Regions from separate parts of the Homo sapiens genome. Here region 2 is linked to region 1. The links come from fine-mapping of genetic effects on gene expression. A gene starts in region 1. The other region holds a variant in brackets. All regions are shown on one strand. Distances are between the middles of the regions.

Region 1 (8,000 bases):
CCAGCTCTCCGTCCGGGTGGGCCCACTTCGGTTTGCCTCACCAGCCACTCCCCAACGCTTCCCCACCTTCCTCAAGTCCCCTGTTCCACTTGAGCACCCAATACTCAGGTGGCAATGGTGGCACTGACGAACTTGTTTGCATGTGCAATCATCTTGATCTCCTTCGCCAGACAGTCAGAAAAACAAAAGGTGTCCTTCCTCTCTGTGAGGCCAGGTCCCCCTTTTTGCTCTGGCTCTGAGCTCCTTCAGCACCTTCAGGCCCCTCTGCAATGGATGGGACACTGGACCCAGAATGGGGGAGGGGCAGTTCCCCAATGGAACATCAACATGAAGAGGGGCTCACATGTCCCCCTCTCCTTCTAATAATCTCCTTTACTCCTAAATTCCCTCTCGCTATTCTCTCCCCCTCCTTCTACATTCAAGACTCATGAAAAACAGCTGAGGAGGCCACTGGCTGCACCCTCCCCACACATTTATTCTGCCTGGCCTTCCCCAAATTATGGGCCAAAGTAGGCACCAACTTCTGAAAACCCACGATATTTCACTTAAGAATATAGGTTCTAGCCGTTCCTGAAAAACAGGAAGATCTAGCAACTTTGGGACACTGCCCCCAAAAGCTGGAGCTTAATACAATGTATATGCCATGAAAAAAACCATAATAATAAAACACAAATTAGGCCAGGCTCATGCCTATAATCCCAGCACTTCGGGAGGCCAAGACTGGCAGATAACTTGAGGTCAGGAGTTTGAGACCAGCCTGACAAACATGGTGAAACCCTATCGCTACTAAAAATACAAAAATTAGCCAGACATGGTGGCTAATGCCTGTAATCCCAGCTACTTGGGAGGCTGAGGCAGGAGAATTGCTTGAACCTGGGAGGCGGACGTTGCAGTGAGCTGAGATCGTGCCACTGTACTCCAGCCTGGACAAGAATGAAACTCCATCTCTCTCTCTCTCTCTCACACACACAAATTAGCCGGTTGTGGTGGCGTGTGCCCGTAATCCCAGCTACTTGGGAGGCTGAGGCAGGAGAATTGCTTGAACCAAGGAGGCAGAGGTTGCAGAGAGCCGAGATGGCACCACTGCACTCCAGCCTGGGCAACAGAGCAAGACTCCATCTCAAAAATAAATAAATAAATAAATAAAAATACATTTAAAAAAAGCTAGAACTGGGGAGGCTGATGTGGGAAAAATGCTTGAGCCCAGGAGAGGGGTAAGCTGCAGTGAGCTGAGATCATGCCGCTGCACTCCAGCCTGGGTGACACAGTGAGACTCTGTTTCAAAAAAAGCTGGAGTTGAAGAACTGTGTCCTTGGGCAGCCTCAGTTCCAGGCACTCCTTTTATCTCCTCCACCTGAGGCAGCTACTTTCTCTTACTCCGGCTACTTTTTTTTTTTTTTTTTGAGACAGAATCTCGCCTTGTCACCTAGGCTGGAGTGCAGCGGTGCAATCTTGGCTCCACCTCCACAACCTCTGCCCCAAGGGTTCAAGTGATCCTCCCACCTCGGCCTCCCAAGTAGCTGGAATTACAGGTGTGCGCCACCACACATGGCTATTTTTTGTATTTTAGTAGAGACGGGGTTTCACCATGTTGGCCAGGCTGGTCTTAAACTCCTGGCCTCAAAGGATTGGCCCACCTCAGCCTCCCAAAGTGCTGCGATTACAGGCATGAACAGCCTTTTTTTCTAATTTTTGCAACTCCAGTCTAAGCCTTCTGTTCTCCATTGCCTCCTAAAACTACTACCTTCTGTCTCTACTGTTTAACTCAAGGATGTCTCATTAAATAACTGGTTGGTTACCAAATTCAAAGTTCTCTCTTCTCCTTCCTCATTCTCCTCCATCTTTAAGGAGCAAAACTACGTTACAACCACATCCCTCCTTTGCTATCAGTGGGTGCCCCTGCAGGTCTCCCCCTGCCTGTTTCTGCTCAGCCTTCAGTCTTCTCTTCCCATCTGCCTCTTCAATGCTGGGGCTCCCCACGCTCTCTTTCCAAACCTCTGCTCTTAATATACGCAAGCTTCTCCCGCAAGCTCACTGCCAATGAACCAGACTCCCAAACCGTACGTCCCACACTTGCCCTCTCCAGTGCCAACCAGCTGCCTAGAGGGCATCTCTTTTTTGACTATGCCACAAGCACCTCAAACTCCACATCTCAACCTTCTCTGCCTAAACCAGCTCCTCCTCACAGGGGAGGCATCTGTAACCCACCAGTTCCTCGAGCCTGAAACCCGCGATCTAGCCTAGATTTCTCCTTGTCCCCTGTCTGCATTCCAAGGCACCGAGGCTGCTGACTACGCCTGCTCATTGCTTCTCCCTCTCCCCACTGCCTTAGTCCTCCTGCGGCCCCCAACCACCACCAAAAGAGCTTTTTAGCCGCTCTCCCTGCCTGAAGTCTCACCCTCTCCGCCCAATTTAGCACCATATGGCTGCAAGTGACGCCTTTAACAGGCTTCCTTGATCAGATTCTCCGGCTGAAAACTCCCAAACAGCAACCCCGCCCTCGGATAAAACATAAACTCCTTTCTGCAGCACACAAGGCTCTTGAAGATCTCGCCCCAATTAGCCGTGCAGCCCCTTTCCCGGATTCCTGAGCTTTAGGCTTGCACTCCAGCGGACTGACCTACTTGTTCCCGGAGTGCTCCACATTCTCTTGTCCCCAGCTTTTGCACACGCAGTTTCTTCTGCCTGGAATGCGGTCGGCTGTGACGACCCCCAGGTAAACCAACTCCTACCACCACAGGTGAAACGAACGCCCTCCTCCTCCTCGCCAATCCCGTTAGTAAGGTGATGTGACTGCCGGCTTGTACCCACTAAAAAATGTTTTGGTGAGCAAGGACCCTGTGTTATGCATCTCAGTGTTCCTGGCACCTAGCAGAGCTGGGTACAAGGGGAATATTCTTTATCCCCTTTGAACCTCAATCCCTCATTGGTAAAACGGAGATAATAATAACCCCTAAGATGACTGTGAAGCTTACAGGAGACATGCAGAAGAATTCTGGCCAAAGGGTTTGAGCCCAACCAGGGTAACATAATGAGACCCCGTCTCTTAAAGGAAAAAAAAAACACACATATATATATATACGCACACACACACACACGTGTGTGTGTGTTTAAAAAAAAAAGTCTGGCCAAAGTAAACACAAAAGGTAAAAAATTTCTTTTTGACGCGGTAGCCAGATAGAGATCTTTCTCAGCCCCAAACAGACTGCATGTCTTGCACGACTGCGTCTCCTTAAGCCTCAAGGTCCCCGCTTCCGTAGTGGGGTTAATAATAGAAGCCAGCTCGGGGTGGGAATGAGGATTAAGCAGGACTAAGCCGCTGTGAGCACAGTGCCTGGCGCAGGGGAAAGCGCAGGTCACGTAGCCATTGGGGTGGGGGTCGGGGTCCTGTGCTGCTGCTAAGTTGGGGGGTGGGCGGAGGGGGAGGGGCAGAGCTCAGAAGGGGGCCGCTGCCCCGGCGGATGCTTGGGGCTCCTCTCGGGGGACCCCTGGGCGATCTTCCCCACCGCGCCGGGCCCAGGCCCCCTACCCGGCCGCCGGCCTCCCCTGCGGCCGCCCGCCCCGAAGCAAGGCCCCGGGAGGCGGGAAGCGAGGCCTCACGTGCGGCGCAGCGGCTGCGCCGAAGGCCTGCCAGGCTACTCACTGAGCCACAGCTCCAGCGACGCTGCCGGGCCCGGGGGACCCTGGGCCGACTCGGTTCCCGCCACAGCCGCCGCCACCGCGGTCGCCGCCATCGCTCCAGCCCCGACGCTGCGGCCGCGGGCGCCACTGCCTCTTCAGCCGCTGTAGCGTCCTGGCGCTCTCCTCTGCTGACTGCGCGGCAGGAGCGGTGGACACGTGACGGGGCGGGGCCGCTGGCGCCACGCCCACCCCAGGCCCCCCCTCCACGCGGGACCGGCCGGAACATTTCTTAGTCCAGATCCCTCCACCCAGCGCTGGTCTTCTAAGACCACTCACCGTACGGTTGCCAGATAAAATACAAGACGCCCAGTTAAATTTGATTTTCAGAAGAACACGAATAATTCTTTTAGCATTTTTATTTTTTAAGAGACGGGGTCTTGCTCTGTCACTCAGGCTGGAGTCCAATGGCGCGATCACGGCTCACTGCAGCCTCCACCTCCTAGGCTCAAGCGATCCTCCCGCTTCAGTCTCCGGAGGAGCTGGGACTAGGGGAGGGCACCACCACGCCTGGCGTGTGTGTGTGTGTGTGTTAGAGACTGGGTTTCACCGTGTGTGTGTGTGTGTGTGTGTGTGTGTGTGTGTGTGTGTGTTAGAGACTGGGTTTCACCATGTTGCCCGGGTGGTCTCGAACTCCTGGTGTTAGAGACTGGGTTTCACCGTGTGTGTGTGTGTGTGTGTGTGTGTGTGTGTGTTAGAGACTGGGTTTCACCATGTTGCCCGGGTGGTCTCGAACTCCTGGGCTACAAGATCCTCTTACCTCGACTTCCCAAAGTGCTTGCATTTATTTTTTATTTTTCTTTTTTTCTTTTTTTGAGACGGAGTCTCACTCTGTCGCCTAGGCTGGAGTGCAGGGGTGCCATCTCGGCTCACTGCAACCTCCACTTCCTGGGTTCAAGCGATTCTCCTGCCTCAGCGTCCCGAGTAGCTGGGACTACAGGTGCATGCCACCACACCCAGCTATTTTTTTTTTTTTTGTATTTTTAGTAGAAACGAGGGTTCACTATGTTGGCCAGGCTGGTCTCGAACTCCTGACCTCGTGATCTGCCCGCTTCGCCCTCCCAAAGTGCTGGGATTACAGGGGTGAGCCACCACGCCCGGCCTATGTGCTTGCATTTTTATTCACAGAAGGGTTTTCCTGGAACACTTTTTTTTTTTTTCAGATGGAGTCTCGCTCTGTCGCCCAGGCTGGAGTGCAGTGGTGCTATCTCGGCTCATTGCAACCTCCACCTCCCTGGTTTCCTGGAACACTTCTAAACTAACATGTCCTGCATTCCTCAATACTCTGCTTTATTTTCTGCATCACACAGTACACCATCGATGTATTATTTACTTGCTTATTCTGTTAAAAGATAATTTTCCCAAAAAAGTATGTCATGATTATCATAATTATGAAATGAATACGTGTTAAATATTTTATTTAATTACATGAGGGAACCAAGCAGATGTTATAATCAATCCAAAAGTGAAGTCAAAGAAGGGCAAATTTATCTGGAAAAAAAGGAAGATAAGACGAATGTGCAAATGGAGGCAAAACTGGCTTTTCGACCGGGGTGAGAGCTGTCCCTCCAGTGAGCGGAATTTACCTATTTATAGGCAAGAATTATTTTGCATTGGTATCAACTTAACAGAGTTATGAGACTTCTCAAAGACAAAGAAAGGCTAGAACCTGGAAGGTTGTGCTGTCTAGACAACACATAATTTTCCATTGAAGCTGTTGTGCCGTACCCCTATTAACTTCAGTAGGGATGGCACCATGTTTGAAAGGCGGAAGAAGAGACCCAGAGCCACTGAATGAGGCAGGTTTACTGAGGGGACTTACGGGGTGGTCTAGTGGCAGTGGGCTGGACAGGAGGACCACTACCATTTGTAAAGAGCATCAGTTTATATAGTATTTTCAACTAGCACCCTTCCCCTAGCAACCTCCATCTGGCAACCTCAATTTAACCCCAAAGGGCCTTGATCCCCCGTATGGCCTGCGTTCCACAGGATGGGGCCAAGGGTTCAGATGTTCCTCTTAGATAAAGAGTGAACCTCTGGGCTGGCCACTCTGTGATTCTGTAGCTTGGAACTCAGAACACACATTCTTCTTAGACCATAGGTACGTATGCCATACAGAAGCACAAATTCTTCCTTGTAGATAACTGAATAGCAATGGGTGATGATTCTTGTCCACACACAAGCAAATGAATACTGTTCTGGGAACACACAGACTTCTTGTGGAAAAACCAGTTCTGCCCCCACTTGCACATCCATTTCAACATTCCTGATCTATACATGATGTCCATTCTTTGGACTGGTTTGAACATCTCACCAGTTTCCTCATTAAGGAGTTAAAGAAAATCTTTTTTTTTTTTTTTTTTTTTTTTTTTTGAGTCTCGCTCTGTTGCCCAGGCTGGAGTGCAATGGTGCAATCTCAGTTCACTGCAACCTCTGCCTCCTGGGTTCAAGTGATTCCCCTGCCTCAGCCTCCTGAGCAGCTGGGAATACAGGCGCCCACCACCACACCCGGCTAATTTTGGTATCTTTAGTAGAGACAGCGTTTCACCAGGTTGGCCAGGCTGCTCTCGAACTCCTAACCTCAGGTGATCCGCCCACCTCGGCCTCCCAAAGTGTCGGAATTACAGGCGTGAACCACTGCACCTGGCCTAAATAAAATCTTTAATACATATTTATCTCTTGAAGATTCTGAACATCTGGCAACACTGGACCCGGCTTTCCACATTTCAACAAAACCTGGACGTGACTAGAGTCTCCACATGCTACAGGGGGCATGAGCTCTACAGTTTGCCAAGGACCATCCTTCAACTCCTGAAACTTTACTTATTTTAAGCACCTGCAATCCTTTAACATTTTTACATTGTTGGAGCTCAGAAAACCATATCCCAGAGCATGGTGTTTTGGCATAGCGAGTACTTTGAACTCAAAGACAGTGGAAACCCTCAGAAGCAGCCTCAGAGCAAAGGTTCTCTGACCTCCTGCCCGTCTTTCTTCTCCCAAGGCAAGCCACAGAAACTCAATTCCTCTTTCCCAAGATGGGTCAGGGAAACTCAAACCCCTCTCCCCTAAAGCCAGCCACAAAACCTAGACATATTACTCCAGCCTTCCTTTATTTCTGCTTAAGAGTTGGCCATAAAGAAATTCTCAGTCGGGCATGGTGGCTCACACCTGTAATCCCAGCACTTTGGGAGGCTGAGGCGTGCAGATCACTTGGGTCCAGGTGTTCAAGACTAGCCTGGGCAACATGGTGAAACCGCGTGTCTACAAAAAAATACAAAAATTAGCTGGGTGTGCTGGTGTGTACTTGTAGTCCCAGCTACTCAGGAGGCTGAGGCAGGAGGACCACTTGAGCCTGGGAGGCGGAGGTTGCAGTGAGCCGAGATCACACCACTGCACTCCAGCCTGGGCACGGAATGAGACTCTGTCTCAAAAAAAAAAAAAAAAAGAAAGAAAAAAAGAAAAGAAAAGAAAAGAAAAAAAAAGCAATTATCTGAGCTACTTTGTCTGATAACAGGTGGTCATGCCCCCTTATTCCTGCCCTATACCTAGGAAGAAGGAGTGATATACAGGTAAGCCAAGAAGAATTTGGACAGGCCTTGCTGGATCCCCCCACCTAAGTCTAATAGATCACTCATACCATTTTGTTCAATCCTATTTCTACCTGGCTGTTGGTCATCAAACCTAAATATAAAAGTAGACAGCCTTCCCTCGGTCTTTATTTCTGAAAGCTCCCATGTCAACATAAAACTTTTTTTTTTTTGATGAAACTTTTTTTGATGAAGTCCTGTCGCCCAGGCTGGAGTGCAGTGGCTCGATCTTGGCTCACTGCAACCTCTGCCTCCCAGGTTCAATTGATTCTCTTGCCTCAGTCTCCCGAGTAGCTGGGAATACAGGCACCCCGCCACCATGCCTGGCTAATTTTGGAATTTTTTTGTAGACACGGGATTTCACCATGTTGGCCAAGCTGGTCTTGAACTGCTGACCTCAAATGATCCGCCCACCTCAGCCTTCCAAAATGCTGGGATTACAAGAGTAAGCCACTGTGCCCGGCCTGTAAAACTTTAATTAAATAAATCTGTTATGCTTTTCTCTTGTTAGCCTTTTTTTTTTGAGACAGGGTCTTGCTCTGTCAACCAGGCTGGAGTTCCGTGGCACCACCAGAGCTCACTGCAGCCTTGACCTCCCAGGCTCAAATGATCTTCGCAACCTCAGTCCTCAGAGAGTAGCTGGGATAACAGGCACACACACCACCGCTCCCAGCTAATTTATTTAGTTTTGTAGAGATAAGGTCTCACCATGTTGCCCAGGCTGGTCTCAAACTC
Region 2 (9,630 bases), 120 kb before region 1:
AACCCAGGAGGCGGAGGTTGTAGTGAGCTGAGATCACCCCACTGCACTCCAGCCTGGGCGATAGAGCGAGACTCCATCTCAAAAAAAAAGAACGGCCTTGGGGATGGCAGGGTCACTCCAGAGGGCTGGCCTGGGCGACCTGCCGGCCCGCTGGGATGTGTCCCGCCACGTGCCCACCGTGTCCCACATGAGGAAGGCTGCCTGATAGCCGGGCAAGAGTACAGGTGCCACGGTCACCAGGCTCACTCTGAACTCTGGCCCTGCCACAGGGTAGCTGAATGGCTCTAGGAAAGTCCTTAAACCTTGCCACACTGTGGATAAGACTCCCCGCCTCCCAAGGCTAGAGTGAGGTCTGTTTATTTATTTATATATTGATTGATTGACACAGGGTCTCACTGTCACCCAGGCTGGAGGGCAGTGGCGAGATCACAGCTCATTGCAACCTCCAATTCCTGGGCTCCAGTGAGCCTCCTGTCTCACCCTCTTGAGTAGCTGGGACTACAGGTGCCCACCACCAAGCCCAGATAATTTTTAAAAATTTTTTATAGAGATGAGTGTTGCTCTATCACCCAGGCTGGAGTGTAATGGTGCAATCTTGGCTCACTGCAGCCTCAAACTCCCAAGCACAAGCAATCCTCCCACCTCAGCTTCCAAAGTAGCTGAAACCAAAGGTGTGCACCACCACAGGCTAATTGTTGTATTTTTTTTTTGTAGAGACAGGGTCTCACTATGTTGCCCAAGCTGGTCTCAGACTCGTGGCCTCAAGCGATCCTCCCGCCTCAGCCTCCCAAAGCCCTAGGATTACAGGTGTGAGCCACTATGCCCAGTCTGTGGTGAGGTTTAAGTGAGACATCCCAGAGAGAGGCAGAGCTCAGCCCAGCCCCTGAGACCCAGGCAGGGCTCAATTCCAATGACAGCCCCTGTGACAGGCACCACTGCCATCCCCTTTCTTTCTTGTTAACAGAAACCCAATCAAGGCAGCCAATAAGCCCAGCTCAGGCTATAAATCCTGATTGGTCTAAGCCAGTGTTTCTCAACTGGAGGAAGTTTCTGGAGACATTTTTGGTTTCACAACTAGGAAAATACTACTGGCATCTAGTGGGTCAGGAAAGTTAAACAGCCTGCAACGCACAGAACAGCGTCAAACGCAGAGCTGTACAGCCCAAAACGTCAATAGCCAAGGCTGAGAAACGCTGGTAGAAGCCAGCCTGGGCTTTCCCGCCTCCTTTGTAGCGGGGATGCCTCATGACTGAGAAACAGCCAGTGAGGGCTAGGAGAAGGCTGGCCAGGGCTTCCAGGGAAGCCGCCACTTGCATGATAGAAGGGACAGAATTGCTGCTCTACCTTCTCTGCTCCCTTTTTCCCTGAATGCAGATGCAGCACCTGCAGTTGCAAGAGTCACCTGCCACGATGAGGCCTCCAGCACATGGGGCTAAGTTTCAAATCACAGGGCCTGACTCCAACCAGCCACTAAATCAGTGCCTGTAGCCACCACTATTTTTTTTTTTTTTTTTTTGAGATGGAGTCTCACTCTGTCACCCAGGCTGGAGTGCAGTGGCGCTATCTGGGTTCACTGCAACCTCTGCCTCCTGGGTTCAAGCAATTCTCCTGCCTCAGCCTCCAGAGTAGCTGGGATTACAGGCACGCACCACCATGCCCAGCTAATTTTTGTATTTTTAGTAGAGACGGGGTTTTGCCATGTTGGCCAGGCTTGTCTTGAACTCCTGACCTCAGGTGATCTGCCTGCCTCAGCCTCCCAAAGTGCTGGAATTATAGGCGTGAGCCACCGTGCCCAGCCACCTTTTACTTCTTTTTATTTCTTGTTATCAAGAAAAATTAATTTCTGTTTAAGTCACTCAAATTACGTTATTCCATTACTTATAGCCAAATATAATCTTAACAGATAGACGCTATTAATGAAAAACACTGAAGTTCATACACCATACATTTTAAAAAAGAAAAAATGTGGGCCAGGCACAGTGGCTCACACCCGTAATCCTAGCACTTTGGAGGCCAAGGCAGGAGGATCACTTGAGCCTCAGAGTTCGAGACCACCCTGGGCAACAAAGCAAGATCCCGTTCCTACAAAAAATGTTTTAAAAAATTAGCCAGGTATGGTGGTCTCCATCTGCAGTCTCAGCTATTTAACGGGCTGAAGCGGGGGAGTTGCTTGAGCCCAAGAATTCGAGGCTGCAGTGAGCTGCGATTGTGCCACTGCACTCCAGCCTGGGTGACAGAGTGAAACCTTGTCTCAAAAAAAAAAAAGGAAAAAACTGAAAGCCTAATTCCTTACCATGGCTGACGAGCCCCCTTATGATCTGGCCCCCAGCTTCTCCAGGGATACTGCTTCACCCTTTCCTCCATGAAGCCCCTCCTCTCCTGCCCCAGCCGCCCTTGGACATGCCTCAGGGCCCGGTCTGCACCACTCCCTGGGCCTGAACGCACCTCCTCCTTCACTCTCTGCCACATGGCTCTTACTCTGTAGGTCTCGGGCTGCCCACTTTATGCAGTGCCAGCTTCCACCCTGACACCCGCTTTTCTGCTAGCACTTACCTCTGAAATTATCCCCATTTACCTTCTTCTCCCTCCCTCTCCCACTGAACATAAGCTACAGGGGAGGACCCATATCCCTAGACATTCCCAGTGCGCACAACATGGCAGACATGTGGGAAGCACTAAAAAATGCACTGAAGAAGTAAGAGGCTGGGTGCAGTGGCTCACACCTGTAATCCCAGCACTTTGGGAGGCTGAGGCAGGCAGATCACTTAAGGTCAGGAGTTTGAGACCAGCCTGGCCAACATGGCAAAACCCCATCTCTACTAAAAATACAAAAATTAGCCGGGCGTGGTGGCGGGTGCCTGTAATCCTAGCTACTCGGGAGGCTGAAGGGGGAGAATCACTTGAGCCCAGGAGGCGGAGGCTGCAGTGAGCCAAGATCACACCACTGCACTCCAGCCTGGGTGAAAGAGTGAGGGGGAAAAAAAAAGAAGAAGGAAACAGTCTTCTTGCATTTCACAGTAGTTATTTATTCCATTTTCAAGATCTGATCCTTTAAAAAAATTATCTAAAAAGTCTTCTCTGATAAATAATACATCTTTAATTTACAACTCTTTTTGATTATACAAATGAACCAAGTCTTTTTTTTTTTTTTTTTTGAGACAGAGTCTCGCTCTGCTGTTAATTTTTGTATTTTTAGTAGAGATGGGGTTTCACCATGTTGGTCAGGCTGGTCTCGAACTCCTGGCTTCATGATCCATCTGGCTTGGCCTCCCAAAGTGCTGGGATTACAGGCGTGAGCCACCGTGACCAGCTGAACCAAGTCTTTTTAAAGTAACTTCTGCCCAATCTTGGGCAGAGTTTCTGAGCAAATCTGTGCTGGTGAGTCGCGAAACAGCAGCCCTGGCTCTCTTGGTGGTCCGGTGTGTGGTGGGGTCAGTAATTCACACTCCGCATGGTGGCCACGGTGGTGGCCAGGCGACGGGGCAGGCCTTTGCTGACCTGTCTATAGTCCTCAGGCCTGGTCTTCAGTAGCGTCACGATGTGCTGGAGGGTGCGGGACGGCTGCAGGCCCAGGGCATCCATCACGTTGATCAGATAGTCTGTGGGGGCGGAGAGGAGACAGACAGAGCTCCACAGACTCAGCACCAAGCAGGTCAGAGCCCCACAGGGCCTCCCCTGAATACGACACAGAGAAGCTGCCCTGCCAAGTCCCTAGATGTGGGGCGCCAACCCTGCCCTCAATAGGCCCTTTACTCACCAGGTTCTTCCCACAGTGTCAGACCAGACTGTGAGCTTGGCTCGAGTCTAGGAACTCTAATTTAATAAAGAACTAACCAACATCACTCCCATCCCCAACCACACACATACACACTCACATGCACACACACGCACACACACTCTCACATCCAAACTCACACAAACTCGCACACACACTCACATGTACACACACTCACATGCACACACTCTCACATCCACACTCACACTCACATGCACACACCCGCCTTCAGCACCAGTCTGAAGGACCAGCTGACCTCACCCAAAGCTCTGTTCTGGGGACTCCTGGGTTCCAAGCCCTGGCCCCCAGGGTATCCACTGACCACTTGGAAAACCCAGAGGGTCAGGAGACACACAAGCTTGTCTGAGCAGTTACTAAAGACCTCCAGTCAGAACGCCGCAGTGAAGACAAGGACAGTGTCTGGGGTGGGACCCTGGTATAACACAGGTTTCCACATTTCCCAGATGACCCCTGAGGCACTGGGGATACAATCGGATACAGATTTCTGAGCCTACCCCCAGACTAGGTTGATGAGCATCCCAAGAGAGGATTCTAGGGTTCTGTCATTCTACAAAGCGACCCCGGTGGTTCTAACCACCAGGCAAGCTTGGGCAAAACAGACAGCATGGGGGAGCAAACCAGGTGCAGCCAGGTGTGACCTCAGAGAAGCCCTTCTACCTCCCTGAGTCTCTGCTTCCATCTGTCCACAGTTACCACCCATCCGGCAGCATGGATAGGGGATGAAGCGGGAAACGAACATGAGAGCACCTGATGTGTCGCAGGTGATCAATATATCAATGCTGCCTTTCCCTCCTGCCTGGGCAGTGCAACCCAACCCAAGGGAAGCCTTGCAAAGCCTTCTCCAGCTCCTCCCAGTTCATGCTTGGAAAGACTAGAAGACAGCACCACCCGATATGCCCCTGGCTAGTTTTTTTTTTTTTTTTTTTTTTCTTTTCTGAGACAGAGTTTCACTCTTGTTGCCCAGGCTGGAGTGCAATGCTGCGATCTCGGCTCACTGCAACCTCCGCCTCCTGGGTTCAAGCAATTCTCCTACCTCAGCCTCTCAAGTAGATGGGATTACAGGCGCCTACCACCACGCCTGGCTAATTTTTTGTATTTTTAGTAGAGACGGGGTTTCGCCATGTTGGCCAGACTGGTCTCAAACTTCTGACCTGAGGTGATCCACCCACCTCAGCCTCCCAAAGTGCTGGGATTACAGGCATGAGCCACC[G/A]CGCTCAGTGCCCCCCCACCGGCTACTTTCTGATCTTGGGTTCATCTCTTCTCCTTGACTAAAGTGGAGCTCCAGGCAAGGCCTCAACTTTCCTTGTGTTTTTTGTTTTGTTTTGTTTTTAATATTTTGTAGAGACAGGGTCTCACTATGTTGCCCAGGTTGGCCTCAAACTCCTAGGCCCAAGCGATCCTCCTGCCTCGGCCTCCCAAAGTGCTGGGATTACAGGCATGAGCCATGGTGCCCAGCCCCCTGTGTTTTCTTTTTAGGCCCCACTCAGGGCAGGGCCAGGAGGAGATGCCTGCTCTGTCACGGCTGACTCAGGAAGAGCTGCTTCCCAGCAAAGGTGCCGCCAGGCACGTACTTACTCCTTTACAAGTTTATCCATAAAACCGTGAGCTCCACTTGACTGTCAGCCAAGAGCTGCAAAGAGCGGGCCCACAGTCTACTAGGACATTTTTGTTTGGCGAGCAGTGTTTTTTGTTCTGTTTGTGCTCATGCTTAATTTGAATGTCTTTCAGGTGTGCATGCTTTGCCACAGACCTCACCACTCTGTCGCCTTATACCCTGTCAGTTTCATATACTAGCCTTACCTTCCCTGCCCCTAACCGTACATCCTTACAGTGTAAGCTCACTAAGCATGGGAGCTGCCTAAAGCTTTGTTGTCTCTATCTCCTAGAACTACAGCTGGCACACAGATGCTCGAGCAATGCTGAATGAGTGAAGAAATGAATCTGCAGGGGGAGCTTAACAGGGAGGAATAACAAGGACAACTGAAACTGAGGGGCAATCCCTAGATTTCACTCCACTCACTAGTTCCAGTTCTTCCCCCTGCTGCTGCTTGTACTAACAGGGAACACCAACACGCATTTGAATTCTCTCATCTCTCTTTCTCTGAAGGGCAGTAGCCAAAAGGCTGCCTGTTCCTCTGGTAAGTGCTGAGAGCTGACTATGAAATGAGCAGGGGTCAGGAACTCAGGAAAGCTGGATCCCAGGCCTGGCTCCATCACTAACAGCTCTGGGACCCGGAGGAAAGCACCTTGCTTCTAGTTCTTCTTCTGCAAAACAAGAGCCAGAAGCCGGTTGAGCCTGGCTCAGCCCTGTGGTCACTGAGGACGAAGCTCTGGCTGTGTCCCCAGGGAGCTGATCTTTCAGGCTTCTACCACCCGCTCTCCTGACCACCCCGAGAGGTGCGTTAGGCTAAAGAGCAGACAAGGTATTGGAATGGCATCAAGAGACTGGGGAGACTCCCTGCCACCTGCCAGCAGTAGCCCCATGCTCAGAGTACACCTGGGCAGTGAGGCCCTCCAGTGAAGAGGGCAGGCAGGAGCAAAGGGGACACGCCCACTGACTTGGCAGGCAGGATGCTATCTGGATGGAGACCACAAAGTGACCCTGGCCACATGGCCTTGTTATGGAACTGCCCTGGGCCTCCGTTCCCTATCGGTATGATGGAGAAGAGAGCACCCACCTCACAGGGGAGTTTGGAATTACATAAGACGATGGGTGCGAGTGCTTGGTCCAGCGCCAGGCATGCCTGGTATGCAGTAAGAGCTCATTAAACACTGGTTGGGAATTATGGCACAAATGGAGCGGGCCAGGTGGGGCCAGGCTGCAGGACTCGCTGAATCTTATCTCACTGAAGCTCCCCTCAACGGTTCTCAAGTCCTCTTCGAAAACATAGATGTCTGAGCTTCAGCCCGGTCTTGCTAAGTCAGAATCTCTGGGGCAGGGCCTGGAGAACCTGAATTTTCAACCAGCTTCAGAGCCAAATCCACAGCTGAAGCTAAGGGAAGACTTGGGATGAGATTCCTGGAGGGCAAAGGAGAAACTGACAGATGCAGCAGGCAAGAGCTGTCCCTCCCACCGCCTGTCTTGTGGGGACCCACCGATGTCAGTGGCCAGCTGCTTGGCAGAGTGTGGGCTCAGCTCAGGGATCTGTAGGATCGCATCACAGTAGGTCTGCATTGTGGCTCTGGCGATCGAGCCCAGCCAGTTGTCAGCCATGTTGTCCAGCTCGGGCAATTCATCCCCTGAAAAGAAAAGGAGGTCACCAAGGAAAACACAGGCCTGCAGTAGCTGCTGAATGCACCAAAGTACCAGGAAGCTTCTGATCTCAATGGCAAACACAGGAAACCGAAAACAGTTACATCTTAGGGCCAGGTGCAGTGGCTCATGCCTGTAATCCCAGCACTTTAGGAGGATGAGGCAGGCGGATCATTTGAGGTCAGAAGTTCGAGACCAGCCTGGCCAACATGGTGAAACCCCCGTCTCTGCTAAAAATACAAAAATTAGCCAGGCGTGGTGGTGCGCGCCTGTAGTCCCAGCTACTCAGGAGGCTGAGGCAGGAGAATTGCTTGAACCCAGGAGGCGGAGGTTGTGGTGAGTCAAGATCGCGCCACTGCACTCCAGCCTAGGTGACACAGCAAGACTCTGTCTCAATAATAACAATAATACAGAATACAAAGTTACATACAAAATACCATCTGCTTACAGAGCAGAGCCAGAAGGCACAAGCGAAAGTGGAAATACCAGTGCGTTCCGCAGTGGGATGTGGTTATAGATTTTTCAAGTTGTGATATTGTTTTAGATACAGCATGTGTACAAAAAGTACATGTTAGAAGGTTAAAAAAAAACAGGACTTGGTGACAAATGAGCCCAAGGATAAGGTGTCATCTGGAGTTTCTACCCTGGAAACTGACAGCTTGACTTGTAACATCGCCAGAAACGGTCCCCGCTTACCCTGCTCAGGAGGAAATGGCAGCTTTCCAGCGTGCAATGCCAACTCTAAGGCAGAGTCCTCCTGAGTCACAAATGGCTCAAGATTCAGGGGGAGGGACATGATGTACTGCCCGATCTGAAACAAAAGAAAGCGCTGTTAGCCTGACATTGACACATACGGGTTATTACTTTATGGGTACATTTGTGTGAAGGCAAACGGCAGAGAGACAAAATTGCTAGACCTCGGGTGATCCCAAGTCTGATCTTTCTAGTATGTGGCGATGCTTGTTATGGCAGTACCCTAAAAAAGAATCACTGGTAGCTTGCATATAGATTATAGATTCATCCTTCTTATAATGACCTCAATATTTTTGAAATGCATTCAACACAATCTCTATCTCCAATGAAGTAATGGATATCAAAATGCTTTGTAAAATTTGAAGCATTGTGTAAATATAAGTATTATTACTGTTCATAGGTGAAAAACCAGTAAGATACTAGTGTCAGAATGTGTGGGGCCAAGCAAGAATTCAAATCCTGTCTTCTGAGGCCAGGCACAGTGGCTCACACCTGTAATCCCAGCACTTTGGGAGGCCGAGGCGGATGGATCTCCTGAGGTCAGGAGTTCAAGACCAGCCTGGCCAACATGGTGAAGCCCTATCCTACTAAAAGTACAAAAATTAGCCGGGGATGGTGGCAGGCACCTGTAATCCCAGCTACTCGGGAGGCTGAGGCAGGAAAATCACTTGAACTCGGCGGGGGCGGAGGTTGCAGTGAGCCAAGATCATGCCATTGCACTGCAGCCTGGGCAGACTCTGTCTCAAAAAAAAAGAGACTCTGTCTCAGAAAAAAAAAAAAAAAACCTGTCTTCTGGATTTGGATCTGATTCTCTCCCTCCTAGATAATTTAACCAGAAGAAGAAAGGAATTCTGTTTGAAAAAAAGCCATTTATAACTATAAATTACTTTGGAGAAAAAACTATATTGTTTTCATAATATAAACTCTTGAAACTAAAGATAGACAAAACCTTGGCTGGTGGGGAATTGCAAAAGGTCATTTGCAATTGTCCTAAAAGACATTTAGGACATGCCCACAATTAGCACAGTCTTGGTCATGTGTTTGTCAGATATCCACGTGATGCCAAGAGTGTATTTTAGACCACTGTTTCCTATTTCTATTGTAATTCATTGTTTTGTGTTTTAAGGTTAAGTATGTGTTTTGTTTCAAAATAAGGGGGTTGACTTTTCAGGTTTCAAAATGATAATATATGTTTTTAAAAGGTCTTTCTGCCTGTTGTTGTTTTTTTTTTCTTCCTGCTACATATTCATTCCATGACATTCCTGTCACTGTTAATTAACTCTGTAAACTAAAAGTCAGGAGACTATCAAAGCAAGAGCTTCTCAATCTGGCCTCACACATGTCTACGTAACAGCGGGCTCCTTTCAGGGTGTAGTGTCCAGAAGTTAACACAGACTCGAAAATCTACCCAGACCAGAGAACTACAGGATGATCATGCCCTTCTTTCCAAACATTCAATATGGTTTGGCTGTGTAAGTGTAAACATCCATTATTAGTTTGGTGTTCCTTTTTTCTTTTTTCTTTTTTTTTTTTGAGACAGAGTTTTGCTCTTGTTGCCCAGGCTGGAGTGCAATGGTGCAATCTCGGCTCACTGCAACCTCCGCCTCCTGGGTTCAAGCAATTCTCCTGCCTCAGCCTCCCGAGTAGCTGGGATTACAAGTGCCCACCACCACACCTGGCTAATTTTTTTTGTATTTTTAGTAGAGACGGGGTTTTACCATGTTGGCCAGGCTGGTCTTGAACTCCTGACCTCAGGTGATCCGCCCACCTCGGCCTCCCAAAGTGCTGGGATTACAAGCGTGACCCACTGTGCCTGGACTGGCGTCCC

Evidence for each region.
Region 2: its variant is fine-mapped to the expression of GGA2 in whole blood (INTERVAL, PIP 0.90).

Annotation. Positions count from the first base shown.
Region 1 is chr16:23,506,678-23,514,677 of GRCh38, forward strand. It overlaps GGA2 (golgi associated, gamma adaptin ear containing, ARF binding protein 2), which reads right to left and starts at 3,817. Exons shown (of 17, transcript NM_015044.4): 1 at 3,644-3,817. The coding sequence starts at 3,734. RefSeq lists silencers at 3,504-3,673, 3,744-3,973, 4,044-4,093.
Region 2 is chr16:23,385,488-23,395,117 of GRCh38, forward strand. COG7 (component of oligomeric golgi complex 7) reads right to left here. Exons shown (of 17, transcript NM_153603.4): 15 at 7,746-7,860; 16 at 6,893-7,036; 17 at 3,006-3,599. The coding sequence ends at 3,433. Among named protein-coding and RNA genes, the nearest start is that of COG7, 63 kb to the right of the region's middle. The variant G/A (reference allele first, on the strand shown) is at 5,007.